Linked DNA regions of Homo sapiens: all the other regions are linked to region 1. The links come from fine-mapping of genetic effects on gene expression. A gene starts in region 1. Each other region holds a variant in brackets. All regions are shown on one strand. Distances are from middle to middle.

What was found.
Region 2: its variant is fine-mapped to the expression of CD207 in whole blood (INTERVAL, PIP above 0.99).
Region 3: its variant is fine-mapped to the expression of CD207 in visceral fat (GTEx, PIP above 0.99). The same link has a PIP of 0.9 or more in breast and tibial nerve.

The regions. Positions count from the first base shown.
Region 1 is chr2:70,831,510-70,842,202 of GRCh38, forward strand. CD207 (CD207 molecule) reads right to left here and starts at 4,307. Exons shown (of 6, transcript NM_015717.5): 1 at 4,195-4,307; 2 at 3,982-4,098; 3 at 2,137-2,511; 4 at 1,391-1,542; 5 at 192-310. The coding sequence starts at 4,267. RefSeq lists an enhancer at 1-203.
Region 2 is chr2:70,864,687-70,875,379 of GRCh38, forward strand. No RefSeq gene overlaps it. Among named protein-coding and RNA genes, the nearest start is that of LINC01143, 18 kb to the right of the region's middle. RefSeq lists an enhancer at 1-378. The variant G/A (reference allele first, on the strand shown) is at 5,439.
Region 3 is chr2:70,882,958-70,893,650 of GRCh38, forward strand. LINC01143 (long intergenic non-protein coding RNA 1143) reads left to right here and starts at 4,914. Exons shown (of 4, transcript NR_126384.1): 1 at 4,914-5,223; 2 at 5,329-5,391; 3 at 6,519-6,631; 4 at 6,864-7,027. RefSeq lists an enhancer at 4,771-5,421. The variant T/G (reference allele first, on the strand shown) is at 5,412.

The DNA of each region.
Region 1 (10,693 bases):
GGCGTGGAGGGCTCAGGTCCACAGCCAGTTGGTGACAGGGTTGTGCTCGATCTTGGTTGCAATGTTCCTGTCACTCTAAGACAGGGAAGAATCAGAAACCCTGTCTCATGGGGAACATCGCCCCCACTCCCTTCATGCCCTGGCCATGGCCGGGGAAAGTCAGGCTGGCACGGAGGGCTCCAGGGGCTTACCTCACACTTTGGACCTTGTTGAATGGCGTGTCATCCACCCAGGACCAGTCCCCTTCCATCCCTGCTTTAGTCAGGCCAATCCAGTAGATGAGTCCCCCCGCTGTTTTATACAGAAACTCCTGTAGGAAAGACAGGATAAGCAGAGGTGCGGCCACACTTGGAGCTTGATCATCTGTCTCTGGGTGTTCTTCACCTGCGCTCAGTGACAGCCCTGACCCACAGATGCGCTGCACAAACTGGCCTCTCAAGCTTCTTCCTGCCCTTGCCCAGAGCCCAGATTTCATCTTCCAGATTATGATGTGTCCCTGCTCTGCAGCTAACAAGCTCAGGACTCAAGCCTTTCTGCCACTCAGGAAGCAGGTGCTGAAGCACAGGAAGGCCTCAGCTGAACTCCAGAGCACGGACCGCAAGAGAATGGTTCATATGATAATACCTGAATTAAATGAGCCCTGAATCCACATACGGCACTGTGCTGAGTCGTCCATATGCATTCTCTCCTTTCCTCTGAGGCAGGTGCCATCACCATGCATGTTTCATCAAGTGAGGGCCAGTGAAGTTTGCCCAGTGAAGTTGGGTATTCCACCCAAGCTGCTAGGACTAGTTAGATGGCAAGGTTCAGGCTCTAGAACTACGCCAGAGCCCAGGCTCTGACCTGCTCTGCTATCCCACCTCCCAGATGAAAAGGGCCTGCCCAATTTCTGCCTCACCAGGCAGGAGACTTCTTGAGTCATGTGGAATCATTAAGGCTGTTCACAAATATTTCTTTTTTTCTGGGCACATGGAAAGTAGATCCTCTCTGCCCTGTTCCAGGAGTACTGGAATCCAGGATCCTCCCAATCCAGGAGTACTGCATAACTTACTTAACTTAATTAACATAACTTAAGCTAGTGAAATGTAAGCAAAAATGAGGTATGTTAAATCTGGGCAGAAGCTTTGCACAATATGTCAAGTTCCCCTTTCCTGCCCCAGCAATTGTGGAGACATATTAAGATGAAGACTCCTTGGGCCTGGGTCCTTGAGTAGCCACAGTGAGCACAGCCCCCTTGCCGGCCCTTATTCGACATGCTACTGAGAACCAATCCTTCTTCATTAGGTCATCAATATTTGGGGATTTTTGTTCACGCAGTATAATCTTGCCCATCCTCCCTGGCCCAGTGCTCATACGCCCCCTTCACAGAGCCCATAGGCACAGCACTCACCTGCTCACTCTCTGAGGTCACCGAGGTCAGGTGTGAATTCCTGGACACACAGAACTGCTCGGCACTATACCAGGTCTTTGGAATGAGAGAAAAGTAATAGAAGTTCCCCTTGAAGTACTTCCAGCCTTGAGAAACCACCTGTAGAATATCATCTAGAGAACAAGAGGTAAAAGTGAACGCTGGTATTCTTGATTTCTTGGGATGCTGGCTTGGTGGGGGCACTTGAATGAGGTCTCAGAGACAGCAGCAAATGGAGCTGTGCGCTGGTGTCCTTGGGTCCTTGTATAGGAGATTAGGGACACTCTTTCAAATCCTGAAAGTCAGACAGAGACTAATAGAGTCTCTGGGACTGGAGAGGTTATAATGCAAGAGGTTGGACAAAGAGTGTCTTCCCCATGATGAGGAAGCAACCCTCCATCGGCCATGACAAGTGGCTGAGCCCCTGGACTCTAGAAAGGAACTTGATGGGAAATGACTAGGTGTGGGCCAGGGTGGACATCCCCTAATGCTTTTACATTCTGCACTTTTGTGTGGGAGCTCTAGCTGGACCCTGGTCTCTTTTCTCCTAACAGCCCCTAAGTCCTCCCCAACCTCAAGCCCTCTCTCCTTAACTTCCTAGCCCATGGCTGCCCCTCTTTTGCCCCCACTCTCCTCCCCAACCCACCAGCCCAATGGCCTCAGGTCTGGGACAGGTAAGATCCCATGGGCCACTGGTCAGCTTCAATGTAATTTTCTGAGTCACTTACTTTGTCGTTTGAGCAACTTGCTCATATTCTCCAAGCTGCCCTGGAGTGCCCGGATCTTTGTATTTAAAGCACTGGCTTTCTCCAAATCACTTTTTAACTCTGGGATTTGGGCATTTAAGGTACTGACTTCTTCCCAACTTCTTGTTAAGATCTGGATCTGTGCGTTGGCCTTCTCCACACTGGTTTTTAACTTCAGGAACTGAGAACGCACATAACCCAGGCTCTCATTCACCATCTGGATCTGAACGCCAGCTGCCTCCATGCCGTCACTATTCTTTTTAATTTCAGAATCCAGGGTGCTGATGTTGTCCACACGACCTTTCAGCAACTGGACATTGGTCTTTACATCTGATATGGTGCCCATAAACCGGGGATCTGGGATTGAGAAAGTCAGGAGGTCAGCTGAGGGGAGTCCCAGGGACAGGAGTGGGGGTGTTGTCAGGTTGATCAAAGGAAGGGAAGGAATAGGCTGAAGCTTCCCAAAGAACCAAGACAGTCCAATGGGCCACCCCAACCCTCCAATCATTCATTAACGTACAACAAACGTGCAATGGGCACCTACCATGTGCCAGGAACACAGGTGGATACAGATAATGGGGAGATTGATAAAACACAGGCTCTCTGTGAAAAGATTTCACAGGCAAGCAGAAGCAGGAGTTAGAAACCATTCCTGAATTTTCTGAGTGTTCAGGGAACATTTGATAAAGGGTGCCCTCCATGAGCCCCACCACTGTCCCCAGAACTTGATTCCCCCTAGACCCCACCCCTTGGTTGCCATCCCTCTGTTTTCAGAAACCCCTGCAGTGGCCATCTGCTAGGACAGCACCACTCCCCCACATCTGTCCATGGGCCCCTCTGTGACCATGGGAAGAACCAGCCACTAATCTGGAAGTGGCTTCTCCAGAGAACATGGAAGAGGAGATTACAAAACTGTTTCTCCCCTTCCCTTGCCCCACCCACTTTCACATTCTGCTCAGGTCCCAGGCCTGGGTACCAGAGAGAGGATCAAAGATAAACCAAGAGGCTCAAAGGCGAGCCCTGAGGAAAATGCGATGTTAGAGGCCAGGGGTCTAGGATGGGGCAAGGGGGACTCTGCTCAGAGCCTACAAGTCTAAGCCCAAATATGTCCCGAGGCCACAGAGGGAGAAAAAAAAACCCAACAGCTTCTTGGGTCCCTTTGCTCTGCTTCCTGGAGCCCTGGCAGGAGGAAGAAGGCTCTGCCAGCAGCAAAGGCCATGAAGCCTGACAGAGCCAGAAAAGGAAGAAAGATAAACCATGCAACATCAAATGAGCAGGAAGCCTCCCTAGATGTGATCTTCACAGGGACAGGAGAATGAAGACAGCACCAACGAGTCCTGGGGAGAGGGGACTGAGTCATGGAGATCTGTTGGCTCGTTGGCCAGGCTCTCCATCTGGTGAGCTGGGGCCAATGATACATGAGGCTCGGTCCTTCACAGGGTCAGGAGACATTGCACTGTCAAGGACTGTCCACAAGGCTCTAGATCCAAGGAGCAGAGCTCAGATTGGTGGGGGGTGGACGGGGAGAAAATAGCACAGGATGTAAAACTAGATCAATGTTTCCTGAGGACAAAAGAATGTATCCTTGAGCACCAATGTGCAAATGCTAATCCCAATAATCTCCCAGAAATTGGGAGGGAAAGAGCATCAGCTCACCGTACTGGGGGCAGCACAGCCTGTTACTGCACATGGAAAGAGGAGGAAGGAGACAAATGAAAAAGCCACAGGCAGGAGAAACCCGGAGAGCAGGGAAGTGGTCTCGATCTGAAGGGAGCCGGCTGGCCACAGAGAGGGGCTAAGCCCAGACGATGAAACATGAGGACTTACAAAGGACGGCCTGCAGCAGGACGGAGGCGACCAGGACCAGCGTCAGGCAGATTAATGCAGCACGGACTGTGGGTGTTTTCCCCGGGACCAGAGATGGACCGGACTTGGGAGGAGGCTCTGTTGGAAGAAGAAGAAAATGTGTGTTGAAGGAGCAGCAAAGGGCAGGTTTGCACACAGAACACGGAGCAGGTTCTCAGCAGCGATGTGGCTTGCCTCGGGGCCAGAGGGAGATGTTCTGTTTGTCCACAGTGAAGTGCGCATCAGGGGCCTCCTTCTCCACAGTCATCCTGAGTGCTCACCCTTATCCTGGGAGCACAGGTGCTTCTGGCTGCCTGTCTCTCCAAGGGCTCTTATCTAGAGGAAACAGGAAGTCAGTCCCACAGCAGGTCACCATATCATCCCAACTTCCCTATTCCTGACTAGATACCTTGTCTGGCTTACTCCCATCCTCAGAAGTCTGAGCTTTCAGGAAGAGGCCATTTGTTGTCTTCTCTGGGGGTCTGTTACATGGATACATTAACCATCTTGTCCCAAACCTATCCCATTTCTCTTGTAAGACTCTCGTCATCCATCCACCCATCCATTCACCCCACAAATACAGGCTGAGTGCCTTCTAGGTACTGATGCTCTACCAGGCATAGGGCCACAGTGATGAATAACTCGCAGTCCTTGCACCAAGCAGCTCATAGTCTGGTAGGAAAGACAGACATGAGCAAATAAATTGCAAGGTGATGAGCACAAGAGACAAATATGCCCAGTTCAAAGAAGCATATGAAATGGAGTAATGGGAAAAAAAAAAATCCAGTAGAAAGATAAGCATATGCCAAAGGATGGAGCATAAGATAGCATGGAGTGCTTGGCAAATTGTAAATAGTTGCAATATTGCTGGAATGTAAAATATACATTCCAACAGGAAGGGGATGCACACGGGGTTGAAGAGGCACCTGGGGTCTGATGATGAAGATCCTTCTGATCATGTCAAGGAGCTGGACCTCTGGCTTGTGGGTGACATGGGGCCAATTAAGGACTTCAGGCAGGAGAGAGACAAGGACAGGGACACTGTAGAAACATCACTCTGATCCTGGTGAGGAGCAGACTGGTGGGGAGAAGCCTGGAAGCAGAGATACCAAATAGGCAACCATTGCAATAGAATATCCTGCTTCCTGTTATTAATGCATCTTGGCTGATACAATATCCCTTTATAATATGCAACTTGGAGATTCAAAGTGTAAACCTAAGACTTGGGTTCTCCTCCCTGCTTCCTGCACCATGTGAGATTTTCAAAAAAAGTAGGGGCGCTCAGCAACCTCAGACTAGGAATCGTTCTGTTTCTCTCTCCTCTCTCTCTGTCCGCACCTCCTCTCTCCTTCTTTGTAGTCCTAAATAGAGAGTTCCATATGTGCAAGAAGCTCAGGGCACAGAAGAGCTGATTTGGGCTCAATGAAGGACTAAATTTTCTCCTGGGCGGCTTCTCATGCTTTGAAGAAGTCTGCCAAATCTGAGAAATTTGGCACATGGCAGACTCTAGACAAATATTTCTTGGAATATAGGAAAGAGGAGAGGAAAGAGGGAGGGAAGGAAAGAAAAAAGAAGGAAATTGGTCCAGATAATTGGAGGATGGGTGAATGGATGAATGGATGGATAGAGGATGCATGGATGGATGTGTGAATGGTAAGTGACTTGGAGACTTGATAGCTGATCATGCCACTCAGACATTTACACAGTCTGGGGCCTGGGATCTGCCTTCTAGAAGCTGCTGCTTTTTTCCACTGTCTCCAGAAGTTCTCATTCATCTTCAATGCAAAAGCATAAGGGGAAGTGTGATTTACTCCTTACCCAGGAATGAACAAAAGCTCTGGCCGCAGGAAAAGAAAGCTGTCCTGGGCCTGCTGAGGCTGAGCCAGTGGAGCTGGATGACAGCCTGTATCAGGGACCAGGATTAGAGGTTAAGTTAACAGGGCCAAGGAAATATCTACCTATGCTTTCAGGGGCTACTGCCACCTTTGGTACTTGGGAGGATAGTGGCTGCACGCTCAGCCCATGCCTATGTGCAGCTCATTGTAGTTACAGGCCCTTGATGCTCTCTCTCCAGCTAACCGGGCCTCAGGCTGGAGTGGCTTCTCGGACTGGATGAGGGAACCCAGAGAGGACCCCACACTGGGAAGCTCTGGGAAGGAAACTGGGTAGCAAAGATGGTGTCTCATTTGTTCTGTCCCATCGCTTCCCTACCCAGCCTGTCTGTAACTTCCAGGCCTGCTGTCTGCTCTAAATTTTAACATTTGATAGTCCCGAATATGAGGGCCTGGCTCCACATCACTGCCTGCCTCTGGGTGTCCATGAAGATTCCTACTCTCTTCAGGTGGCTCGTGTGGTTGCAGAGCCTTGGTTCCATCAGGGCTTAGACAGGATTAGAATGTTCCACTTCTGGACTCTCATGCTTGGGACCCAGCCTAACTCCAGAATCATCTCTGCCCTTCTGCTCCTGGCTCCTGGCCCTTCATCCATAGCCTGTCCTATTTCTGGGCCTGGGGATAGAGAAGAATCCAAATTACTCAAGACCCTGGTAGAAGGGGCCTTGCAGGGGTCCATGTCTCCTCCTGAGGCATTTGCGGGAAAGAAGCCGCCACACAGTGTGCCTGGGAAGTGTCTTGTCCATTTCCGCTCGGTCAGGAAGTTGGGTTTTCTCTGCTGGTTTGTGGTATGAGTTATACTTTATAGAGCCCCCCAGATGCCCTCTCATTGGTCCCAGGAAAGGATGAGGAAGCCTTAGCGGCTGGGCCCATGGCATAGGAAGGGGCTGGAGCAGGGAGCATTTACTCCAAGTGATGGAAATGCAGGCTGAGGTAGGTAGAATAGCTACCGCTAGGCGAAAGGCTGTTCCAGCATGAGGAAGCTGAGCAAAGGCATGGAATCCTGGGCTGTGGGCCTTCTGGGGTTTCAGAGGAGGTGGATGTAAAAGTCCCAAACCATAGGAAGTTTCATTTCCCACTTTGTGGAGAGGGAGGGAGTCAGAAGCCATCTTCCTATTATCATGCTCATCTACAGGTCTTTCCTGAGCACCTCTCCTGTGCAAACCTCTGGATGCTCTATCTGGCACCTGGCCTGGCAGGAGAAAAGACAGAGAAGCAGGCAGGTGCCTTGGCCACACTTTCCAGTCAGGAAGGTGGGCAGTTCTCCCGGGCACTCAGACAATGCCCTGCTCTTCCAAACAGAAGAGGAACTCTGGCCAGACCTAGTGACCAAAAAAATCACCGCTGTGATGAGAACGGGAAGTCTGTGCTCATTTTTTTAGTTTCTCCTCTTCCTGTGTTCCTGGGGTTCTAATATTTTCTCTGGATAAGGATGGAGGAAGAAAACAGCTTGGTCACTTTTTCCCTTTCTCTGGTTGAGACTATGGTTGGGCCCAGCCTTATGCTTGGAGGAGAACCATGGGTTTAATCAACAAGACTGGAACAGAGACCTGGGTTGTATGAAATGCTCCAGCAGTGCCAAGAGTCATCTCCAGGGAGGAGTCACCCAAGTCCCTCAGTCAAGTCATGGAGGAAAGTAGAGTGAACACCAAATTGCGGAGTGGGGACAGGGAAGGAGAAGAGAGGGAGGAGGGGAGAATGACTCTGAAATGAGAGGAGATTACAGCTGGTCACACCTGGCTTACATAGGGACTCCTGTGATGTGATGCGGGATTTGGCCCACAGCCTCCAAAAAATCAAGGGATTCCATGCCACCCTCCGGACATGCGCCCTGGGCACAGGGGATAGGGCAGAGAAACCAAGGAGCATAGGTGGCACCATTCACTCCTCTAGTCCTGCTGTGCACTAGGTACCAGGACACAGCAAGGAAAAAGACAACCACAGACCCTGCCCTCAGGAATGGTTTTCCTATTGTTGAAAAAATATGACATCCTTAATGCTGGGGAGAAGGGAAGGCTCTCCCGAGACTAAAAATGACTGACGACACTATAGGGGCCTTCCCAGGTCTCCTTGGACCCTGATAACGGGTTCCTCTTTTATGACATTATATGAGGACAGGTCTCTTTGGAACAGTGACAATAAGCCAGACCCTACTGATCAGGGTATTTCACCCAGTGCCATCATAAATAGTGTGATATGTAAATAGGCTGGCAACCTAGCCACATGGAAGAGCTGCTGTGTACCCGGCAGAGGAGGCTGCCCCAGACTACGTCATAAGTCAAAGAACTCATGCCTATAGCCTCAGTGGGAAGGGCAAATCTATGTCAGGAAAGTAATGAAAGGCTTTTGGGAAAAAAAATGTGCATAGTTTCTTTTTAAATCTTTTATTTATTATATAATTAATGATAATTAATTATAGAAAAAAATCCAAGTAAGAAAAAAACCCACCATAGGCTGGGTGCAGTGGCTCATGTCTGTAATCCCAGCACTTTGGGAGGCCAAGGTGGGTGGATCACCTGGGGTCAGGAGGTTGAGACCAGCCTGCCCAACATAAGTGAAACTCGTCTCTACTAAAAATACAAAAATCAGCCAGGCATGGTGGTGGGTGCCTGTAGTCCCAGCTACTCGGGCGGCTGAGGCGGGAGAATCACTTGAACCTGGAAGGTGGAGATTGCAGTGAGCTGAGATTGTGCCACCGCACTCCAGCCTGGGTGATAGAGTGAGACTCTGTTTCAAAACAAAACAAAACACAACAAAACCATCGTAGAGAAAACAAATGTTGTACCCATAGTTCAGTCTTCCTAACCACCCACGTGTATATGTATACACATCTATATCTATAGCCATAGCTGTGTCTAATCATAACTATGCATATATTATATACATATTCACAACACAATTCCTGCTTATTTTCCCTAGCATCCTTCCCCACCTCTCCTGCCTTTCTTTTTTGTTTTTTTGTTTTGTTTTCTTTTGTTTGAGATAGAGTCTCACTCTGTTGCCCAGGCCGGAGTGCAGTGGCGTGATCTCGGCTCACTACAACCTCCGCCTCCAGGGTTCAAGCAATTCTCCTGCCTCACCCTCCTGAGTAGCTGGGACTACAGGCGTCTGCCACCACATCCGGCTAATTTTTTGTATTTTTAGTAGAGACGGGGTTTCACCGTGTTAACCAGGATGGTCTCAATCTCCTGACCTTGTGATCCACCTGCCTTGGCCTCCCAAAGTGCTGGGATTACAGGCGTGAGCCACTGCGCCCAACCTCTCCTGCATTTCTGATACCAAAAATCCCCCTCCATTGGGAAATTTTTTCAGTTTGTGATTCAAATGGGGCTGCTGATCCTAGATACCCGCAGGTGTAGGAGTGACAACTTGCAATGATGGGTGCCCAGGGTTTGGGTAGGAAGGTAGCTCTCCTCTCTCCCTAAACTGAGGGACCTAAAGATATGACTATAGGGCAGCTAGTAACCAGTTCCTCTGTCATGTGGAAGACCCCAGTAGAATAAGACCAGCACAGAGACAGAAGCTGTAACAAAAAATGAAGAGACAGAAAGTGAGTCCTGGTGCCTTTGAGTGCTGGATCCTGTTGAACTTGAGTTCCATTCCCCACAGACACTGTGTTTCTTGGTTTGGTTATGTGAACACAAAAATGAAAATCTCTTATTTTCATTTGAATTTAATTGGATGAGTTTCTGTTTCTTGCAACCAAAGAGTCCTGTCCAATGCGTTATGTAAGCATATACATTTTTTTTTACAAAACTAGACTTATACCCTATAGTGTGTAAGTTTTTTTTGTGTAATAATATATTATGGATAACCTTAAAATCAAACTTACATCTGCATAATAACTTTTATTTTTATTTCATGCTCTATTGTAACTTCATTTTCACTTTTTATATTTGATACATTTGGATTTCATGATTTTCCATTTTTTTCTTATCTCTTATGGTTTTGTTCAAGTATTCCATGATTTTAGAAAGGAATCTAACTTATCCATTTCTAAATGGGTAGCCTGCTGTCCAGATACCATTTTTTAAAACCATGCATAATTTTATCTCTGATTATGAAGTACCATCTTCATCATGTGTTTCATAATATGTTTGAGTTTGTTTCATATCTTTAAAGGTCTGTTTCTGGACTTTCTGTTGTGTTCCATTTGTCTTTCTATTGATATAACAAAACTCTACAATATTAATTAGTATAGCTTTATAATAAAGGCCCTATCTCCAGACACAGTCATATTGAGGATTAGGGATTCAACATGTAAATGAACAGAAAACACAATTCAATCCATAACAGAGCTCATAGAACAGACTAGCAGAAAAATATAACCCGTAATAAGGATAAAAACCAATCTACTGAAACGAACCCAGAAATGATACAGATGTTAGAATTTCCAGACAAGGACATTACAATAGACATTATAACTGTGTTTCTTGTGTTCAAACAGTTAAATAGAGACATGAAACATTTAATAGATACAAATTGAACTTATAATGACTGAAAAAACTACAATGCCTGGTATGAAAAATACACTGAAAGGGATTAATGGCAGGTTATAAATTGTAGAAGAAAAGATCAATGAAGTTGAAGATATGCCAATAGAAACTATGCAAAATGAAGCTCAGAGAGAAAAAATAACAGAACATCAGGAAGTCTGAGACAACTTCATGCAATTTAATATACGTGGATTTGAAGTCCTCAAAGCGGGTGGAGAGGGACAGAAAACATATTCAAAGAAACAATGGTCAAAATGTTTCCAAGTTTAAGAGCTATTTATTTATATAATAACATGGATGGGTCCA
Region 2 (10,693 bases), 33 kb after region 1:
TCCCTCTGCTGGAAATGCCCTCTCCCTGCCCGGCCCACCTCACTGACTCCTTCAAATCTCAGGTTAGACGCCGATTCCTCTGGTCAGATAGCCCTGGCCCCCAAATCAAGTGAGATTCCCATTCGGGCTCTCCCAGCTCTCCAGGCCACCCCCAGCACAGCCCTGTCACACTGTACTATGTGTGTGTTCCTTGAGAGCAGGCACCGGGCATGCTCACCACATAGTCTCTGCACCTAGCTCAGTACCTGTCACTTCACAGCAACAAACACATTGTGAGCACCCAGCATGAGTTAGGGACAGTCCTCAGCATCTTCCCTGCACTAACTCATTTCATTTTCACAACAGCCCTGTAAGGTGGTGACTTCACAGGAGGCCCATTTTTTTTAGATGTGGAAACTGGGGTACAGATACATTAGGTAACTTATTCAGAGTCACAAAGCTATTAAGCAGCAAGTCTGGTGTTCCAACACAGGCAGCCCAGGTGCAGAGTCCAGTCCTAGCTATAATGCTATACTCAACCATGTATTGAAATAACTCTTTATTGGTTCAGTTAGCTAATGTAAAATGGAGCCAGCCTGACCCCAAGAAGTTAGCTGACTTTTCCTGAGGTTGTCTAGTGAGGTCAGAACTTTGACTCAAGCCCTCAGACTTCTAGACCAGTGTTGCTTATGAACCCACCAAAAAGAGACCAGGGGGTCAGGAGTCACTGGGCTGCTGCAGGTGCAGGATTCTCAGAAAGGCTCCTGAGAAAAAGGGGCCCTCTTCCTTTGCTGCCTTGTCCAGAAGTGCTCATTATAGTCAGGACAGAAGCCCTCCAGCACAAAAGGACACCCCGGCAGCAAGTCTCCTGGTACCCAGCACTATTCATGAGGTTCTATTAAAACAAACAAACAAACCCTTTGTATTTTTGTAGAGACAGGGTTTCACCATGCTGGCCAGGCTGGTCTTGAACTCCTAACCTCAGGTGATCTGCCCAGGGCGTGATGGCGGTGCCTGTAATCCCAGCTACTCAGGAGGCTGAGGCAGGAGGATCGCTTGAAACCTGGGAGGCGGAGGTTGCAGTGAGCCGAGATCGCGCCATTGCACTCCAGCCTGGGCGTCTGTCTCAAAAAAAAAAAAAAAAAACCACCTGAGTTCAGATCCAAACCTCAATTTGATCAGGCCTCTAAATCTAATTGCCAGATTAAAGGAAGTACAGAGGATACTGCAACATGGTGAGTAAGTCCAAAGAATGAGAAATGCTAAGGACAACGGCTCTAGTTACACACACACACACACACACACACACACACACACTCATACATAAAGAGTAAGATGAATGGTCACAGATTTTAAAAGCCTTAAAGATGTATCAAACAAACACAATGTATGGCATTTGTTTGGATGCTGATTGAAACAAGGTACCTGTTAAAGAAAACACATGTGAGACAAAAGAGCAAATGTGAACAATGACTGGCTATTAGTACTAATCTGTAGGTATAATTACTGTGTTTTTTGTTTGCTTGTTTGTTTGTTTTTGAGACAGGGTCTCACTCTGTCACCCAGGCTGGAGTGCAGTGGCTCGATCATGGCTCACTCACTGCAGCCTTGACCTCCCAGGCTAAGTGATCCTCCCACCTCAGCTTCCCAAGTAGCTGGGACTACAGGTGTGCACTATCACACCCAGTTAATTTCTTTATTTTTTTTGTCGAAATGGGGTTTCGCTGTGTTGCCCAGGCTGGTCTTGAACTCCTGGGCTCAAGTAATCCTCCCACATCTGCCTCTCAAAGTGCTGGGATTATAGGCATGAGCCACCATGCCCGACTAATTATTACACTTTTTAAAAAAGAGTTCTTACTTCTTAGAAATACATACGGAAGTATTTACAGATAATAAAATAACTTCAGGGAGAAGAATAGGGATATAGATAAAATAAGGTCAATTGTGGAATCTGGGTAATAGGTATATGGTGGGGGAGTTATATTATTCCCTCTACTTTTGTACTTGCTTCTAAAATGCATAATAAAAGACTAAAATAAAAGAGTCACCCTCACACAGTGAACCAGGCAGCTGCAGCCAACCAGTCAGAAATTATGGATTATGAATCCACTTTATCCAGTCAATTCTGTTCTGGAGTATGGTGATCCCAGAAGGAGGTTTTGAAACAGTAAAGAGCCCCTGGATCTTAAAGAGGAGTCAGCTCTGGTAGGCTCAGAAGCCTGACCCTGGCTAGGTGAAGTGGCTCACACCTGTCATACTAACACTTTGGGAGGCAGAGGCAGGAGGATCGCTTGAGGCCTAGAGTTCAAAACCAGTCTGGGCAACATTACAAGACCCTGTCTCTACAACAACAACAACAAAATTTTAATTTGCCAGGCATGATAGCATGATCCAATAGTCCAAGCTACTCAGAAGGCTGAGGCAGGAGGATTGTTTTAGCCCAGGAGTTCAAGACTGCAGTGAGCTATGATAGTGCCACTACATTCTAGCCTGGCAATAGAGTGAGACCCTGTCTCAGAATAAAAATTTAAAAAGAAAGCCTGACCCTTATAGCTTGGCTACATTTATAGAATATAGAATATTTATTCTTCTTCGCTCTTTTTTTTTTTTGTCTTTTATTGCTATTAAATATTGTTCTCCTTCAGTCTTTGGTAAAAATCTTTTATGAAAATTCCAACTTTTTTCACATGTGGCTAAGGGAAGCAAGGAAAGTTGAGTTTGTTTACCAAATGTTGAGACCCTCAATCCCATCCCCAGCCCCTAAGACACCTGGTCTTCCTCTGCAAGCAGGAGACTGGAAGAGCCTTCTCTGGGAAATCTAACCGGCCCAGGAGAAAGATATTCAAGGCAATGAAAATTGATAGATTTTTCTGAAGAAATTGAGAGGAGTTGTAGAGAGTTGGCAGAGTCTGAGGTTGAATTATTTCAAAGCATATAGAAAACTAACCAAATGAAAAGAAAAAATAATTATTAATTTTTTAAAGTAGTATAGGAAAGGAAAATATAATTGTGATTCAGCTGTGAATAATGTTTACATATTCATAGCAATATGATTACTGAATACTGATATACCAACTGTTATTTATTGGTTTGCCGCATCCATTTCCATTACTGTTATGTTCTTCCCTAAATCACAGCAGATGGAAGGCTAGAAACTATTCTTCCAGACTTACAAAAAGTTTGGGATCTGATTGTGATTTTAGATCTGCCACAGGGATTTTTTTTTTATCTGTTTGGCCTATCAATAATCTAGAAGTGTTTTGAAATCCCTCACTAGGATAGTAAATGTGTACATTTCTCCCTATAATTCGTTCGTTTTTATGTTATCATTAGAAACCATGTTAATTGCTCCCAGCACTTTGGGAGGCCGAGGCAGGCGGATCACGAGGTCAGGAGATTGAGACCATCCTGGCTAACATGGTGAAACCCTGTCTCTACTAAAAATACAAAAAATTAGCCGGGCGTGGTGGCGGGTGCCTGTAGTCCCAGCTACTCAGGAGGCTGAGGCAGGAGAATGGCTTGAACCCAGGAGGCGGAGCTTGCAGTAAGCCGAGATTGCGCCACTGCACCACTGCACTCCAGCCTGGGCGACAGAGTGAGACTCTGTCTCAAAAGAAAAAAAAAAACCATGTTAATTGCATACATGTTTAGAACTGTTGCCGGGTGTGGTGGCTCATGCCTGCAATCCTAGCACTTTGGGAGGCTGAGGTGGGAGAATCACTTCAGCCCAGGAGTTTGACACCAGCCTGGGCAACAGAGGAGAACCCATCTCTACAAAAAATAATAAAAAAAACATTGGTGGGTGTGGTGGTGCACACAGTCCCAGCTACTCAGGAGGCTGTGGTGGGAGGATCACTTGAGCCCAAGAGTTCAAGGCTGCAGTGAGCCATCTTTGTGCCATTGCACTCCAGCCTGAGGGACAGAGAGAGACCCTATCTCAAGAAAAACAAAAACAAAAAAAACCTGTTTTATCTGCTTAGTGAATATTTTGTCATGAGAATGATATTAATATGGCCATGCTTGCTTTTTTGTTTGTTTGTCCAATGTATCTTTTTCCCTTTCTTCACATTCAGTTTGTCCGTATCTTTACATCTTAAATGTGTCTGTTTAAAAAGACATATAGCTAGGTTTTCTGTCTCATCTTTTTTTAGTTCTTTCTCCAAAAGCGTTTTCAGCGTAGGTCATCCTACAGTATATATTGAGAAAAATGTTTAGTATGCCCTCATATCTGAGTGACAATCTGCCTGGATATAAAATTATAATTTTCAAAAGAGTCACCCTCACATACCCCAGCAGGGTCTATGTTCTGCCCTGATCATACCTTCTATAATCTGAATGTGTCCCTCCAGAATTCATTTGTGTTAACCTACGTGGACACTGGGGTGGTATGAAGAGGCAGGGCCTTTGGGGACATGGTTGAGTCATAAGTGCTGCACCCTCATGGATGGGACTAGAGCCCTTAGAAAAGAAGTTGAAGGGAGCTCCCTGGCCCCTCCACCATGTGATGACTCAGCAAAAGGGGCCATATTTGAAGCAGAGCAAACCCTCACCAGACAGAATCTGCCAGCACCTTGATCTCAGACTTCCCAACCTCCAAAACTGTGAGCAATGAATTTCTACTGTTTATAAATTACCCAGTTCATGGGTTTGTGTTTTTGTTTGTTTTGTTTTGTTTTTTGAAATGGAGTCTCTGTCTGTCTCCCAGGCTGGAGTGCAATGACATGATCTCGGCTCACTACAACCTCTGCCTCCCAGGTTCAAACAATCCCCCTGCCTCAGCCTCCCTAGTAGCTGGGATTACAGACACGTGCCACCACGCCCAGCTAATTTTTTTTTTTTTTTTTTTGTATTTTTAGTAGAGATGGGGTTTGCCATCTCTGTTGGCCAGGCTGGTCTCAAACTCCTGACCTCAAGTGATCTGCCCACCTCGGCCTCCCAAAGTGCTGGGATTACAGGCGTGAGCCACCACGCTTGGCCCCATAGTTCATGGTATTTTTGTTACAACAGTCTGAATGGACTTAAGGCAGTACCCCATGGGTACCTGCCCAAACCTTCTGGGCCATTTTCACAGGCTGAGGGAGCACCCAATGGGTATCCTAAAGCAAAAAGGTTAGGGCAGGGCAAGCCACAATTAAAATAATAGCCTGCCCAAAGTTAAACTGCCACCTCCACTTCTTTGCAGCTTTTAAATGACAGGGTTGCTCCAGGGAGTAGTTCCAGCTACATTTCAGAAATCACAGGATTTTGCTCTTGGCTTCAGCGGGAATGATGCTGGTATTTCTCCAGTAAGCTCCAGGAAGATCTCCACGTACATGGAACCCTCTCTTAAGCAATTTAAGTGAACTGCTGTGTGCGTAAAGAGGGTGGCCTATGTGGCTGTGTGTGCATTTGTTTGTGCATACACAGGACGCCCCTGGAAGGTTACACAAGAAACTAACACTATTGAGTGCCTTTGAGGA[G/A]GGTACCTGGGTGACTGGGGACTGGAGTAGGGAATGAAGCTGTTCCATTGTTTTATAGCTCTTGATTTTTTAAAATTTAATTAATTAATTAATTAATTTATTTTTGAGACAGGGTTTCACTTTGGCATACAGGTTGGAGTGCAGTGGTATGAACATGGCTCACTGCAGCCACCTCAACCTCCCAGGCTCAAGCGATCCTCCCACTTCAACCTCCCAAGCAGCTGGGACTACAGGCATGCACCACCATACCCAGATATCTTTGTATTTTTTGTAGAGACAAGGTTTTGCCATGTTGCCCAGGCTGGTCTCTAACTCCAGAGCTCCGCCAATGCACCAGCCTCGGCCTCCCAAAGTGCTGGGATTACAGGTGTGAGCCACCATTCCTGGCCCTTGGAGTCCTTTTGATAAGAACACTAATCCCATTCATGACAGCTGTATGCTTATGACCTAATCACCTCCCAAAGTTCCCAACTCCTAATACCATCACATTGGTGATTAGGATTCAACACATTACTGTGGGGGGACATAAACATTCAGATCATAGCAGGATGAGAGCAGCTCCCTCTCACCTCCCACTCTGGGACTGTGCTTCTGGAGAAGAGTTGGCTGGGGATGCCCTTCACATGGGACAGAGAGTGGATTGGGAAGGAACTGTCATCCTCCTGAGCATTAGGGACCTCCTTCCCCAACATATTTGATATTCCTGTTGTCATGTTTTATCTGTTCAGGTAAAGCTAATGATTGTCCTCTTACAATGGCAAACAACAAAGAAGAAATATCACCCCATATCTCCAAGGGCCTAATCTCTGGCAGCCTGCCAAGATGTAGGATTGGAAGCTGAGGAAAAGGGGGCGTGCATCCTGGAACAGAGCAGATGCAGATACACAGAGTTGAGCTGTTCTCCGACTCTTCTGTTCCCAGGGCCTCCTCCTAGAGAAAGCCCAACTCCTGTGGATTATACCAAGCCTTGCTCAAGTGCAAGCTCTCCCTGGCTCCTGATCCTCCTGGTGCCAGGCTCGCCCTTTACAGCCACAGTTATTTTCGAATGCATCACCCGTATAATCTTCCTATGTCTATCTCCCCTACAGACACTCAAAATGGCCTCTAGTCACTAAGAGGAAGAGGACAGTGACTGACGTCTGGCCACAGGGGTACCCTGGGGTGGGAGCTGCCGTTGTTCACTACAGCAAGGTGGATGTTTTCATTATCATTGTACCCCCAGTACTCAGGGAGTATTCCGGGAGCATAAAGGACTCCTCTTGGGTTTCCCATCCTAATGGGGCTGTCCGTCCTGCCCCTTCCCTTATGGACCAGGATTAGGGAGCGTGGACTGCTGCACTGGGCACGAACAGGTGTAACCAGAGAAATTAGACACGCGGCCAGCTTCCCGGGCCTGGCCTCGTTGGAGACATCCCCCACTCTCCCTCCTTTTCCCACCCCCATCCACCCATTTCTGGACCCTAGGGAGCCATAGCCCACCACCCGGGGTGCCTGCGCAAGGAAGTCGGCGAAGAGCGAAACCCCTCGGTGCTGTAAGTTTGCGACCAGCAGAGGGCAGCACAAGGCCGCTTCCCTGGAGGTGGCCGGCAGGACAGCTGCAGCACTACTGGAGGCGGGCGGGCACCGACTGGCGGCGGCCAGGGTAGGAGAGCCCTGTCAGTGTGAAATTAGCCTGAAGACTGGGGCGTGGTATTAGTGCGTACGCCAGGGGCACGTCCCGGTCCCTGACACCCAGGACACTGTCGTTACCGCCGCCTTCCTCCATCAGTGTGGTACCAAGGGCCGTGTGGTGCAGTGATGGGGGCACAGGCTCTGCCATGAGGCTGAAAGGATGTTTCCACTCCACCGTTTACTGTGTGGCGTTGGGAAAGTTACCTGACCTGTCTGAGCCTCAGCTTCCCCATCTATTACATGGGGTAATACGGCCCACCTCACTGGGTCGTTAGGGAGCTCATAGGCACACCGGTAAGTGCTTAATATTCACCTTCATCAGCACTTTTCTTATTGCGTCATAATTGCCCAACTGTGTATCTCTCCTTGTACAGGTTTCCTTAGCACTTGTGGGAGATTATGTTTGGGATCTATATCCAGGAGTGGAATTTCTGGGTCACATGGCATGAAAAAGTTCCCAGATGCCTGAGCTGCCTGGTCCTCAGGAAAAGGAGGGTGGGGCAGGGGGGTGTCTCCAATCTCAAAATACCTGTCAGGCATTTTGGGATTACAGTGCCCAGCCCCGTCCCTCATCAAAGTAACTGCTCCGTGAGCTGTTGTGAAGCCAAGCTGAGTGGGAATGAGGTTGCCACAGCTCTACACTGGGCGCTACACAGCCCCTGGCTGACCTCAGACCCTGTCCAGATCTCCTCAAACTCCAGCCCCTTGGAGCCCCCTGGTGTTGGGAACAAGACCCCCCAAATCTGGCCATAAACTGGCCCCAAAACTGGCCATAAACAAAATCTCTGCAGCACTGTGACATGTTCATCATGGCCATAATGCCCACACTGGAAGGTTGTGGGTTTACTGGAATGAGGGCAAGGAACACCTGACCCACCCAAGGCAGAAAACCGCTTAAAGGCATTCTTAAGCCACAAACAATAGCATGAGCAATAACTGCTGCAGTTAACTAGCCCAACCTATCCTTTAATTCGGCCCATCCCTTTGTTTCCCATAAGGGATACTTTTAGTTAATTTAATATCCTATAGAAACAATGCTAATGACTGGCTTGCTGTTAATAAATATGTGGGTAAATCTCTGTTTGGGGCTCTCAGCTCTGAAGGCTGTGAGACCCCTGATTTCCCACTTCACACCTCTATATTTCTGTGTGTGTGTGTGTCTTTAATTCCTCTAGAGCCACTGGGTTAGGGTCTCCCCAGACGAGCTGGTCTCGGCACCTGGGTAGCCCAAACTTCTCTTGCTGTGTGAAAGGAAGGGCTGTTCCCTCCCCAAGCCCACAGTGGTCCTCACCCACCTTGGGGGTTTGGGCCACCTGAGAGTGCCTGCCCAGGGCCTGGGTCTCCATGAACTTCTGTGTCTCTGTCTCTGTAGGTGCTTGTTTCTGTGACTGAGGTTGGGGATTCCTAAAAAAGAAATAAGACCCCCCCATCTCTTTCTGGCTTCTTTTTTATTTCTTAGAGACAAGGTCTCTCTCTCTGCCACCTAGGGTGGAGTGCAGTGGCACAATCATAGCTCACTGGAGCCTCAAACTCCTAGGCTCAAGTGATCCTCCCACCTAAGCCTCTCAAGTAGCTGGGACTACAGATGCACATCACCACACCTGCTAATTTTTTTAAGTTTTTTGTGCAGATGGGGTTTCACTGTGTTGCCCAGGCTGTTCTCAAACTCCTGGCCTCAAGCCATCCTCCTGCCTTGGTCGGTCAAAGCACTGGGATTATAGGCATGAGCCACCTCATATGGCCTTCTGTCTCCTTCTTTAACAGCCAGCAGTTGGTGCATATAATTAGTCCTCAATTCTTCCTCAAAGAAAACAAGTTTGAAGCTCAGCCCAGTTGCCCCAGCCTGCACCCAAAGAAAATGTTACTTTTCTTCTCACTGCACAGCCCCACATAGGCTCGGCCAAAGGGGAACAGGATGGAGTCTCCCCAGGGAGTGTGGGCTGCCTCCCTGAGGGAGTGCTGGAAAGAGAGACATGTCCTCTTCGGTAGGAGATAGCTGGTGAGAGAGCGATCCTGGGAACCGTCCCCTGGATAGTTCTGTGCAGCTGACCTGAGGCCAGGGAGCCCTAGCACTGTCTTCTCCCTCATGGCCCAGAGACAGGGAAAAAAATCTGTAAGAATTAGCTCAGGGTAATTTTTTCAGTCCCCATTTACCTTCTGAGCCAGGTAACCTTATGCAATGCACAACGTGCCCAACTGTATATGGCAGAAACTTACATCCTCGCGCTTCCATAGGAAGTAAGATCTCAGACTGTAAAGAAGACTGCGACCAGGCAGGTGTCCACTTGTCCACCCTTGCTCTCTGGGGCCATCAGGGGAAGGTGGTGGTCAATGTTCCTGTGAAAAAATACTGCTTACTCCTGTCAGTGGACCCACAATTCCCTTGTTGCTCCTTCCAGAGCAGCTGCTTCTGGGCCTGATGGTGTCTACAGAGCAGTTTCAGGAAACCTGTGTCCTCCCTTTCCACTGCCTGGCACGTCCCAGCCAACATGGCTGACTACCCACCTGTGCTCAGCATTGTCTCCTGGCAACTGTCCTTATTACCTAACTCCAGCTTCAATGTCTCTTCCTATTTCTCAAATCAGGAACACTTCTCAGTGATACCTATTTTCCTCCCAAACTGTGGTCTCTGACTGAGTCCCTGGTCTCCACCACAGACTTGATGACACTCTTACATATGGCTAAATATGGCGTCCTCAAACACGCATGCTAAACTAAAAACACCACTTCTAAAAATTTATCTGAAGAAATTCTGGCACAAGTGCAAAGATGTATGTTTAAGGAGGGTTATGGGAGAATTCGTTTGTGGTAGTGAAAAACCTCTGAAGACTCCAGATGCCTATTAATAGGGAAATGGCTTAATACTTTATGGGTCACTCAAGCTATGCACTTCCATGCAGCTGATAAAAAGCTTTCCAAGACGTTTAAAGGGCTGGAGGTTGGGAGGGTTGGAAAACAATACGAACAGTCAGAGCCCTTATAGGTTTTAAGAAAATAGAGGACTACATGCAGCTAAATGCATAGACCTGGAAAAGCCAAGGGCCAATAAGCATTTGGGTGGATGCTCAAGATCATTGGTAATTTCCAGAGATGTGGAAATTAGAGCAACAAAATATCCCTTGATGCCTAGCTGACTGGCAAAAACTCAAGAGTGGGAAAATACCAAGTTGACAGTGGAGGGGATGTGTGGATACACAAAACTACGTGCACATTGGTGAGTGTAGACTGGAGCAGCCATTCTGGACAGCAAGCTGACAATATTTAGGCAAGTTAGATGTTTCTAGTGACCCAGAAACTCTACTCCTGGTATAGATCCCAAAGATATTTTCCCACAGATGCTTAGGGAAACCTGTACAAGGAAGTTTGTTGTGGCTTTTTTTTTTTGAACAGGGTTTTGCTCTGTCGCCCAGGCTGGAGTGCAATGGCACCATCTTGGCTCACTGCAAGCTCCACCTCCTGGGCTCAAGTGATTCTCCTGCCTCTGCCTCCTGAGTAGCCAGGACTACAGGCACATACCACCACACCTGGCTAATTTTTGTATTTTTTGTAGAGATGGGGTTTCACCATGTTGCCCAGGCTGGTCT
Region 3 (10,693 bases), 51 kb after region 1:
GTGCAACTAGAGGACTCTACCTTAAAAATATAAATAATAAATAATAAAACTCAATAATATAAAAACAAATAACCCAATGTGAAAAAGAGCAAAGGACATAAATAGATATTTCTTTACAGAAGATATACAAATGGCCAAGAAACACATGAAAAGATAGACAACATCATTAGTCATCAGGGAAATGCAAATAAGAACCACATTGAAATACAAAGTCACATCCACTAGGATGGCTATAATTGAAAAAACAGACAATAACAAGTGTTGCCAAGGATGTGGAACAATTGGAATTCTTATTCATTGCTAGGGGAAAATGTAAAATGGGACAGCCACTTTGGAAGACAGTGCGGTAGGTCCTCAAAAATTTAAAGATAGAATTAGTTGTTTGACCTAGCAATTCCACTCCTAGGTATGTACCCAAGAGATATGAAAATATATGGCCACCGAAAACTTCTCCAAGAACATTCACAGCAGGATGTATTCATAATAGCTAAACAGTGGAAACAACCCAAATGTCCATCAACTGACGAATAGATAAACTGTGGTATGTCCATACAATGGAATTATTCATCCATTAAAAATGAAGTACTGATTTATGCTACAATACGGATGAACCTTGAAAACATTATGGTAAGGGAAAGAAGTCAGTCACAAAAGACCATATATTGAACAATTCCATTTATATGATATGTTCAGAATAGGCAAATCTATAGAGACACAATGTAGATAGTTACCTAGGGCTGGCAGGGATGGGAGAATTGGGAGGTGAAAGCTAACAGGAATGGGATTTCTTTTGGGGATGATGAAAATGTTCTAAAATTGATTATAGGAGTGGTTGTACAACTCTGTGAATATACATATTAAAAAACATTACACAGTGTATTTTAAATAGGTGAAGTGTATGATACATGAATGATATCTCAATAAAGCTATTACCCCCAAAAAAGGACATTTGGGACAATTCACAAATTAAATAAATAATATAGTAACAAAATATAGCCTATTGAATACATTAGGAATCCATTTGTTGATATTGATCTAAACAATGCACAAAGAGCTTGATGAGGGGCAGGATATATAGATAGTCTAAAAGTTCCTCCCTGCAAAATACTTATTAAATGCAAAGGGAAAAATAACCTTACAGGGAGAAACTTAATTCTCACTCAAATGATCAAAGTTAACATCACCAGTACAGGATATATCAAAATCATGTACCATCTGATAGGACACAATGAGAAGAATTCAATATCACTTCTGTGATATTCCTGCCAAAGATGCATAGTCTGAATTGAATTGTGAGGAAACATGAGATAAATCCACACCGAGGGGCTTTCTACATAATAACTGGCCGTGAAAGTCAAAGACTGGAACTAACTGTCACAGATTGAAGGAGACTAAAGAGACGTGACAACTGACTGCAATACATCTTTACTGCATCCTTTTGATAATAAAGGACATTTGCAGAACCATTGACAAGGGGGTCTGAGGAGTCAATTGTGATAGCATTAATTTTCTAATTTTGATGATTGCATTGCGATTTCAAGGGAGAATGTCCTTGTTTGTTAGAAATACAAAATAAAGCATTATGTCAGCAACTTGAGTTCAAACAGGTAAGTGGAGGAGGGGGTTTCTTTGTAATGCTCTTGACAATTTCTCTGTAAGTTTCAGACTGTTCAAAATAAAACAAGGAACTCCAATATATACAATCTAACTAACTGGTCCATATTCTTCAAAAATATCTGTTACAAACATACACAAAAAAAGCTGATAAACTGTTTCCAGGTAAAGGAGGCTAACAAGAACTTAAAAACTAAATGCAATGGGTAATATTGAATTAAATCTGGGACCAGAAAAAAATAATAATATTATAAAGGATATTATTGGGACAATTGATGAAATTTGAATAAGATCTGAAGATTATATATCAATGTTAAGATTCCTAATTTTAATCACTGCAATGTGGCATGTAGGTGATGGCCCTCAGGAAATGCACGCGAAAGTATTTAATAGTAAAACGGCATGGTGTCTGCAACTTATCCTCAAATGCTTCCATAAAAATAATTTTAAAAGAGAATGATAATGCAATTGCAGCTTAAAGACAATACTAGAGTTTTGTAATATTCTTGCAACTTTCCCATAAATTTGAAATTGTTTTTAACAATTTTAAATAATATTTAAAATGAAATATAAAACTCAATACCATGTACATACAATAAAAACGCACACCAAAAAAAAGAGCTTATTTTGTGAGAATATATGACAACAAAGACTAACAGCAAATACAACCCAGTGGTTTGGAGGAGGGGGTTGTGAAATTCAGGGAGGAGAATGTGAGTGCGTGAGTGCTCAGTCTAAAAAGATTAAACACACAATTTTTTTTTTAAACGGAGCTTCACTCTTTTCGCCCAAGCTGGAGCGCAATGGTGCGATCTCGGCTCACTGCAACGTCCGCCTCCCGGGTTCAAGCGATTCTCCAGCCTCAGCCTCCGGAGTAGCTGGGATTACAGGCGCTAGCCACCACGCCCAGCTAATTTTTGTATTTTTAGTAGAAACGGGGTTTCACCATGTTGGCCAGGCTGGTGATCTCCTGACCTCAGGTGATCGGCCCACCTCGGCCCACCTCGGCCTCCCAAAGTGCTGGGATTACAGGCATGAGCCACCGTGCCCGGCCTAAATACACTATTTTTAAAACAGACTAGGGAGGGGAGCTGCCGAAACAATCCCCAAACTTCTCACTTCACACTTCTGAGGAATGAGATGGGGTAGAAGTAGGGACAAGCATGAAGGGAGGTGTCATGTTTTATCTTTATCTTTTGGCACTGTTTGAACTTTTATTATATAAAATACAACCACATAAACAAATATGTAATTTTTTAATACAGACAAAAAAATGATGGAACATCTATATAATGTTACCAAGACAGCTGCTAGGAATGAGATAGAGCTACTTCCATTAACATGTAAGAAAACTATGACCTATTTTTTTAAGGCAATTTGCAGAGTGGCAGGGAATATAAATCATTGTTGCAAAAAACATCTAAATAGTTCACATATGCAACGTAGTAACTATAAGCCATGCTACTTCTGCACAGAGGATTAAGGAAGGACTTGTAGACACTTGTCTGATTATTTTATGAGTTTGTGTTCACTTATAATCTTTAAATTAATCTTATGTGAATATATTCTTATTAAAAAATCAAATAATATATGTATTGCTTTTATGATTTAAAATACATATTACTGTGGTTTAGAGAAGAAATTGTTTCTTAAAGGACAATTCCTATTTCTTTCTTCAGCCTCAAGAGTCAGAAAGCAAGACAATTAGTATTTTTAAATAAGGAAATGTAAACTAGTTTTCAGTAAAACATAATTTACAACAATAATGATTATGTAATCATGCCTCTATTAATACAGCAACCGTTTAAAATAATGCAAATGCACAATAACCAGGCTGTCTGTTTCCAATTTCCTTGGACTGGATGGCGAGAATCCCACTTTCCTGGACTTTTCCACCCACATTTATGATCCCTCGCAGCGTATAACCACTACGTACCTCTCCAAACCCAACAAACTTTGCAGCCTGCGCAGACAAAGGTTTCTATGTTTCTCTCTCCATTTCTACTTGGCAAACCCCTGCCTGGGGCTGTACTCGGGAGTCACCTTCACTTCCTTGCTAAGTCAGGTGAAGCCTTACCTGACTTTCTCCAGGCTGGGGAAAGAACCCCCACACCCCTCACCCACTCCCCGGCTCCCATTGCCTCTTCTTTCCTCTCCCTACCGTGCTGCCCACTTTGCGCGGTAATTTTTGCTCCAAGGGCCTGCCTCCCAGAGGCTTGGGGTGCAGGGAAAGTGCTCTAAGGGTGGGACTGATTTAGTCTGGACATTCCTGACCGGTAGCACCACGCCCATAATGACCCGAAAATAAATGCCTGCGTAAATTGCTTTGGGAAGCGGTTGGGCAATTTATTAAGAGTAGTGAAAATGTCCCCTTCCTGCTGAAACAGTAAGAATCTTGAAGAAATAATCCTCCCCAAAGGAGAAAACTATATACACGAAGATTTTAGGTTGTGTATTATTTTCATACAGAAAAACTGGACACGGAAGAATATCAAGTAATTGAACGGTTAAGTAAATTACACAGTAACATAATAGAGCATTACTCGGCCATTGAAAAGTATACTTATGAGGATCATAGCACATAGCAAATACTGAAGTGTGGCCTCAAGTAGAAAAGACTGAATACAAAACTACATGTTCACCAGGACTAACATTATGCAAAATAAAGATGCACATTTAAAAAAAAAAAAAAAAAAGACTGAGTCTTTTAGGGGTAGCACGGGGATATTTTTCCTGCTTTCAATTCTATTATTGCTGTTCTAGCCATGCGAACAGTGCACAGAGGTTGGAAGTGGCGTCAAGAGGAGTCTTACCATTGTGTATATGACTGTAAAACTGAGAAAAAGAAGGTAATATCAGCCTGGGGAATGCATTTCTAATGGCGGGACTTCCTGCACCTTGACCTGCCAGTCGGGGTTGTGGCCCGGCAGTGGCATTCCCAGGGGGTCTCAGAACAAAACGACGGCCACAGAGTCCACCTGGACAAAAGGGCAGGGAAGGGGCCCCTCGCCCTTGACCCTTGGGCTCTGCTCCGGCCACCCTGAGCCGAAGGCTGTTTGGGTGAATGCGTGGGGTTTCTCCGGCGATCGATCCCTTTGGACTGGCTTCCCCACTAGCAACCTGCGCGTCCCCACCAGAACCAGCCGGCTGGCCGAGCGAAAGCCCGGTTTCGGGAGACCTTGCGGGGAGAGCAGCTGGCCCTCGCCCACCGGGCCGCGCTTTGTCTAGGGCGCGAGTCCGCCCGTTTCCGGCCCCGCCCCTCGCCCTGGTCCCAGTCCGCCCCTCCCCCTACCCGGCTTCCGCGTCTCCGCTCCCGCGCTGCCGGCTTCCGCGGCTTCCCCCACTTCTCAGCCTGCTTCTCTCTCCCCTCTCCTTCCTTTCCTGTCCTTTCACACTCGCGCCCCAGCCCCCGTCACCATCTACCCCAAGGACTTGCAAACTTCGCCCCTGAGGAGCGGACTCTTCGGTTCTCCGTGGAAAATCAACCAGACCCAAAACAGAGGTCCCGGGTTTGGGGATACCACGCCGCGCGCCTGAGCATCCGGGCTCCATTTCTCCAGGCGACATCTGCGGGAAGGGAGACCTAAAGGCCAAGGCTGGGGACGAGAGGCAGGTGCCTGGAGTAGTGGACGGTGGAAATGGCGACGGCGGCCTGCACCCAGCGATCCCGAAAGTGCCCATGTATCCGTCCATCTGGGTTTTTTTTTTTCTTAGATCATCCACCAAGGCCGGGGTTTCCGAGTGAGGCGCCCACTTCGCATCCCACAGTACCGCCAGGTGTGTTTCCCATGAGCTCT[T/G]TAAGAGAGAACCCAAGAGCTCTTTAAGAGAGAACCCAAATAATGTGTGAATACCTTCTCCAATAACTTCAAGTCAGAGGCTCAGACACACACACACACACACACACACACACCCCTAAAACATATTTATTTCGTGGAAGAGCGTGTATCCCTCGGCTGTCCTTCCAGCTCTCCCTTGGTGCGTGTGCAGGACGCACAGAAGGGTGGAGTGTGGGTTGCGATTATTTTTACACAGAAGGTGTCACACTCTGGGATCTGTTCCGCAGGGAGGCCACAGGTGCCAGGAGACGCGGGAGAGACTGGCTCCTGCCAAGAACATTTCTTTGCATTGTTCAGTGCGGTTTTTTATTTTTATTTTTGACTGTTTGTTTGCCTAAGAGATGACTTCCCTTGCCAGAAAAAAAAAAGTGTTGTAAAAATAAAAGGAAACGGGATTACGATGTAAAAGACGAATAGATAAACCCGGTTCCGCAGATCTGCGGCGCGCGCGCCTGGCGACCTCGGATACATTCATTGAAGTTGCCGCGCACTCGTACCCGGGTTCACCTCGCCCCTCGCTCATTCCTCCCGACCAAGGCCCATGGTCAGAGGTGTCCTCGCCCCGCGGCCGTCAGAGGGCGCGGCCTACACTCGAATGCCGGCCGAGCCCTCCACGCGCTCGGAACTTGGGCTTCCCGGTGCAGCCTCCCCGCGATCGCAATGCCCGCTGCCTTTCCCGAGCCCAGTCCGGAACCCGCCTCTCTCGGGGACCTTGACCTCGCGCGGACCTCGTCGCCTTGCTTAGCTCTCCCTGACCTGCTTTTGAACCCGCTAATCCCGTCCCGAACTCTCGCCCCGCGGCAATCCCTCGCCCCGGCCCTGGCGCGCTAATTCCCGCTGACCCCGCCGCCCCGCCGCCTCTCTCCGCTCGCGCGGCTGTGACCAGGATAAGGGCTTCCCGCCTCTGAGTGCAGGTGTGATCTGGAGCTCAGGCAACTACTGCCCCCGCATTGTCCCCAGCCCGCGCTCGCACCCCCAGGACCCAAGCAAAGCGTCTCTTGCCTCAAACATTCTGCCCTTCTCTTGCTTCCTCTTGTTTCCCTAGCATAATTCATGTCTTTCTTTAAGAAACCCATCGGACCCACAAAGATCAAAATCTTCGGTAACACACCAAACTGGCGACGCTGTGGGGAAGCAAGCACTCTCCCAAGTGGCTGGCGCGCAGTGAGGGCGCAGGAAAGGTAAGCAGGAGACCCGCCGCTAGGAGCCAGAGCCAGGCCGGCGAGGCGGGCAGGCAGGAAGAACCGCGGACAGGGCGACTTGATCTCATTTTTAAAACCGGAGAGTGAGATGGGACGAGAGCTTGAGCTTCTAGGGATGGGGCTGAGATTCTGGAGAGACACCTGGTAGTCATTTCTTAATCTTTTGTGCTGCTTAGAATTTTTTCTTAGATGCATGTTTTCCTTTTAAAAGAAAAAGAAAAAAAAGAAAAGGCAGAGCGGGGTGGCTCACACCTGTAATCCCAACAGTTTAGGAGACCAAGGAGGGAGAAGCCCTAGCGGCCAGGAGTTCCAGATCAGCCTGGGCAACATAACGAGACCCTCGTCTCTGCAAAAAAATAAAAAATAAAAAATTAGGCGAGTGTGGTGGTGCCTGCCTGTTGTCCTAGCTACTCAGGAGGTTGAGGCAGGAGGATAGCTTGTGCTTAGGAGTAGAAGGTTGTAGTGAGCCGTGATCGTGTCACTGCAACCAGCATGGGCGACAGAGTGAGACCTTGTCTCTTAAAAAAAAAATAGTAAAAGTCATTATTTTAAAAGTTGATGAAATTAGTTCACACTACACACATTTACAAACACAGGTCACACACACACACAAACACCTCCAAGGCAAGGGTCTGCACATTTGTTTGGGGTTGTTTTGTTTTGTTTTGTAAGCAAACTGAACCCAACACAAAGCACTGTACTCCCCTTCTTGGTGTTTATTACAGGACCATGGAGGCTTAGTAAAAAGCATTTATTTAAGGGGAGTTATTTTCAGAGGCTGTTTTCTAGCCAGGAAAAAAAAAAATCGGATACTTAGACTTATCCCCTGGTATGTGCAACATGTAAACAACCAGGTAGCATGCTTCTCCCACCCCCAAAGATCAAACTCCAGGGTTCCAGCCTTGGCCCTGTATCAGTCTGACTGCCCCTGGAAGGTTGGCCATCTCCAGTGATATAGGCTACATGACCGACTATTCGAGTCTGTTTGGCTCACAGCTGTCCCCTAGTGCCTGGCATATTTTAGGAACTCAATAAACATTTGTTAGATGACAAATATTTCAAAGAATGTGCAACAGCTCCTGGAGAACTGTTTCCAGTAGATATAAATTCCTAGCAGCATCTTGGGGTAAGAGGACGGGCCCCCGAGGCTGCCACCTCTAGAGGGCCTTGGATAGTGGCCAGTGCCTTCCCACACAGGCCCAACAGTCACCCAAAACAGGCTGTCATTCAGCTCCTCACCCTTGCATTTTGAAAGTCCTCTCCCAGGGTCAAGAGATAGAGAATTCCTCTAGCCTGGTCCCACCCAGGCCAGTGGCTCCTAGAGACTCAGTCCCTAGGTAACCCCTCCTATTCACCATGGACAATAGGCCACTCAGCAGACAGGCCTTGGATGCTTGTTGGGACCCACCTGAGCCCGAGAGCAGAGCTTCTGGCTCACATGGTGAAGGGGAAACCAGAGAGAGGGTGACCTAGGAAGAGGTGCCAGAGATGCCTGGCTCCTGATTGCCAAGGTCAGTCTGGAACCCGCTTGCAGGTGACACAGATCACTGATCGCAAATGATTATTGCTTGAGGCAACAGGGCCCTAAACCTGAGGGTTTCCTAGCACTGGGGACATGGGAGACAGGTGGTTAGTGACCTTGAATGTACAGTGTTCTGGCTTGCACAGAAGGCATGGCAAAGACAAAAAGGACAAAAAGATGAAAAGGAGACCTGCCTACTTTGTAGTGACTAGTGGCAAAGACGAAAAGAAGACCTGCCTAAGTGGTAAGTCACTGTAGGCAACCTCTCTGAGGCACAGTCAGGAAGGAAAGGTGAGCCACTGCCCTTGATGGAAACACAGAAACGAAATGCTTCAAATCCATTCTAACAATGACATTTAAATTTGTGTTTTACTGGATTTGTTTGACTTTTAACACACCACAAATTCAAAAGGTATCAAAGGATATAAAGGCCGCCCATGCTGACCTCCAGGCCCCTCCCCAAAGACAGTCCAGAGAGCAGTCCCAGTGATCCAAACTGCACCCTGAGCTTTCCAGGAGCATCACGTGGGAAATGCCTGGGAAATGATGCCTGCCCCCTCCCGTGTCTCCCCCGCGACACACAAACACACACACACACACACACTCACACACAGCCTTTGCAATCTCCGTTTGCCTCTTTGCCAGAGGACTCAGATCTTTCTTGGGCTCGAGTTGCTGTTCCTTCCCTGAATTGTTCTTCCCTGGGCCTCAGGAAAGGCTGATGAATAGGCTGGGGTTCTCAGGTTGGGAAAAATGCAGGATCTGGCTTTGGGTATGAGACTGGAATGATAAACTCAGAATGCTCCCCAGGGTCTGTGCCAGGGCCGAGTTGGATGAAGACAGGGCTCCAGCCTGGGCCTCACAGCACACTGTCCTCTGAGCCCAATGGCCACTTTTGGGAAAAAGAGGGTTGAGCCAACCTGGGAGGAGAATTGCTGTCCTCAGCCTTGGCAGCCAGTTGCATTTCTCCTGCACCCACCACCTGGGACAGGCACTAAGGTAGTCAGTGTGGAGGGCCCTGGAATCTGGGTTCACAACCCGCATGCTGGACAGTCTCCCGCTGCTCCCCTTGGGCATGGCTAACCTCCTCATTTCTTCATTCACCCTGGCAGGAGGAGGAGAGGGAGCAATTAGGGCTACAGTGTGTTCTTGGCTCTAAGCCTTAAATGATACAAGCTTAAATCTTTCCTTCAGCACCCACAGAGTGCCAGGTAAAGTGCACTGGGTTAAGTGCTCTGAATATATTAATTTACTCCTCTTAACATTTCCAGAGGTTGATACTAATATTACTCCCACTTAATGGATGAGAACACTGAAGCCTAGAGAGGTTCAGCAGCCTGTTAGCAACTAGTTAAGTGGTAGAACCAGGATCTGAACCCAACCTAGCCAAGAGCCACGACTCTGAATCATTGCTCCAGAGACTGTATTCCTATAAGGCTGCAGTCCAGGTGGCTCCTCCCCATTGGACAAAACCAGAAAGAATGCTTCCAGAAGGTGACTGATTAGCTGGGGACCCATAGCCATCCAGTGGCATTTCCCAAGCCTTGCCGGGCTCATCTAGCTGTTCCCAAGAAAACTCCCCCACTCTTCTGGTCAAGCGCTGACCTGAAGGCTGAAAACCAGTTTGGGAGTCACAGACGTGCTCACACAAAAGGTAGAAATAATCCAAATTTCCATCAATAATGAATGGATAGACAAAAAGTGAGCTAATCATACAATGAAATATTCTTCAGTCAGAAAAAGAAATGAAGTACTGATACACGCTACAACATGGATGAAATTTGAAACATTATGCTAATAAAAGAAGCTAGGCACGAAAACCACAGATGATATGATTCCATTTATATGAAGTATCCAGGATAGGGAAATCCATAGAGACAGAGAGTAGATTAGTGGTTGCTTAGGGCTGGGGGTTTGAGGAGATAGAAGGCTGGGGGATCGAGATTTCTTTTTGAGGTGATGAAAATGTTCTAAAATTGACAGTAGTGATGGTTGCACATATCTGTAAATACACGAAAAACCATTGAATTATACACTTTAAATGGGTGAATTTTATGATATGTGAATTACATCTCAATAAAGCTATTACCAAAACACAAAATCAACACAACATACACACATAGTTCTAGAACTTAAGGCCACCACCCAGTCAAGGTAGATCCAGGCTCTGCCCTGCAAGTGTCCATGTCCTTGCAGTCCAAGTTTCCTTCAGTCTCTGTAGAGGCCGCAGCTCCCCTGCAGTGAATGATACTGCCCCTCAATTCAAAAGGCCCCTCCTGGGCTGTGCCAGGAGCCTGAATCCAGCCTACCGAGAACCTCTTAGACTGGGAGAGAGCTCCCTTCACAGAGTGAAATTGGAGGGAGGGGAAGAGATTTTTGCCTTGGCAGGGCCCTTGGGGTCCCACACAAACCAGCTATATGACCTTGGTCTCAGTATCCTCTTCTGCAAATTGAAACAACTGAGCCCCCGTCCTAAATAGTCTTGTGAGTATTTCATTAAATTATGAGTCTAGCACAGC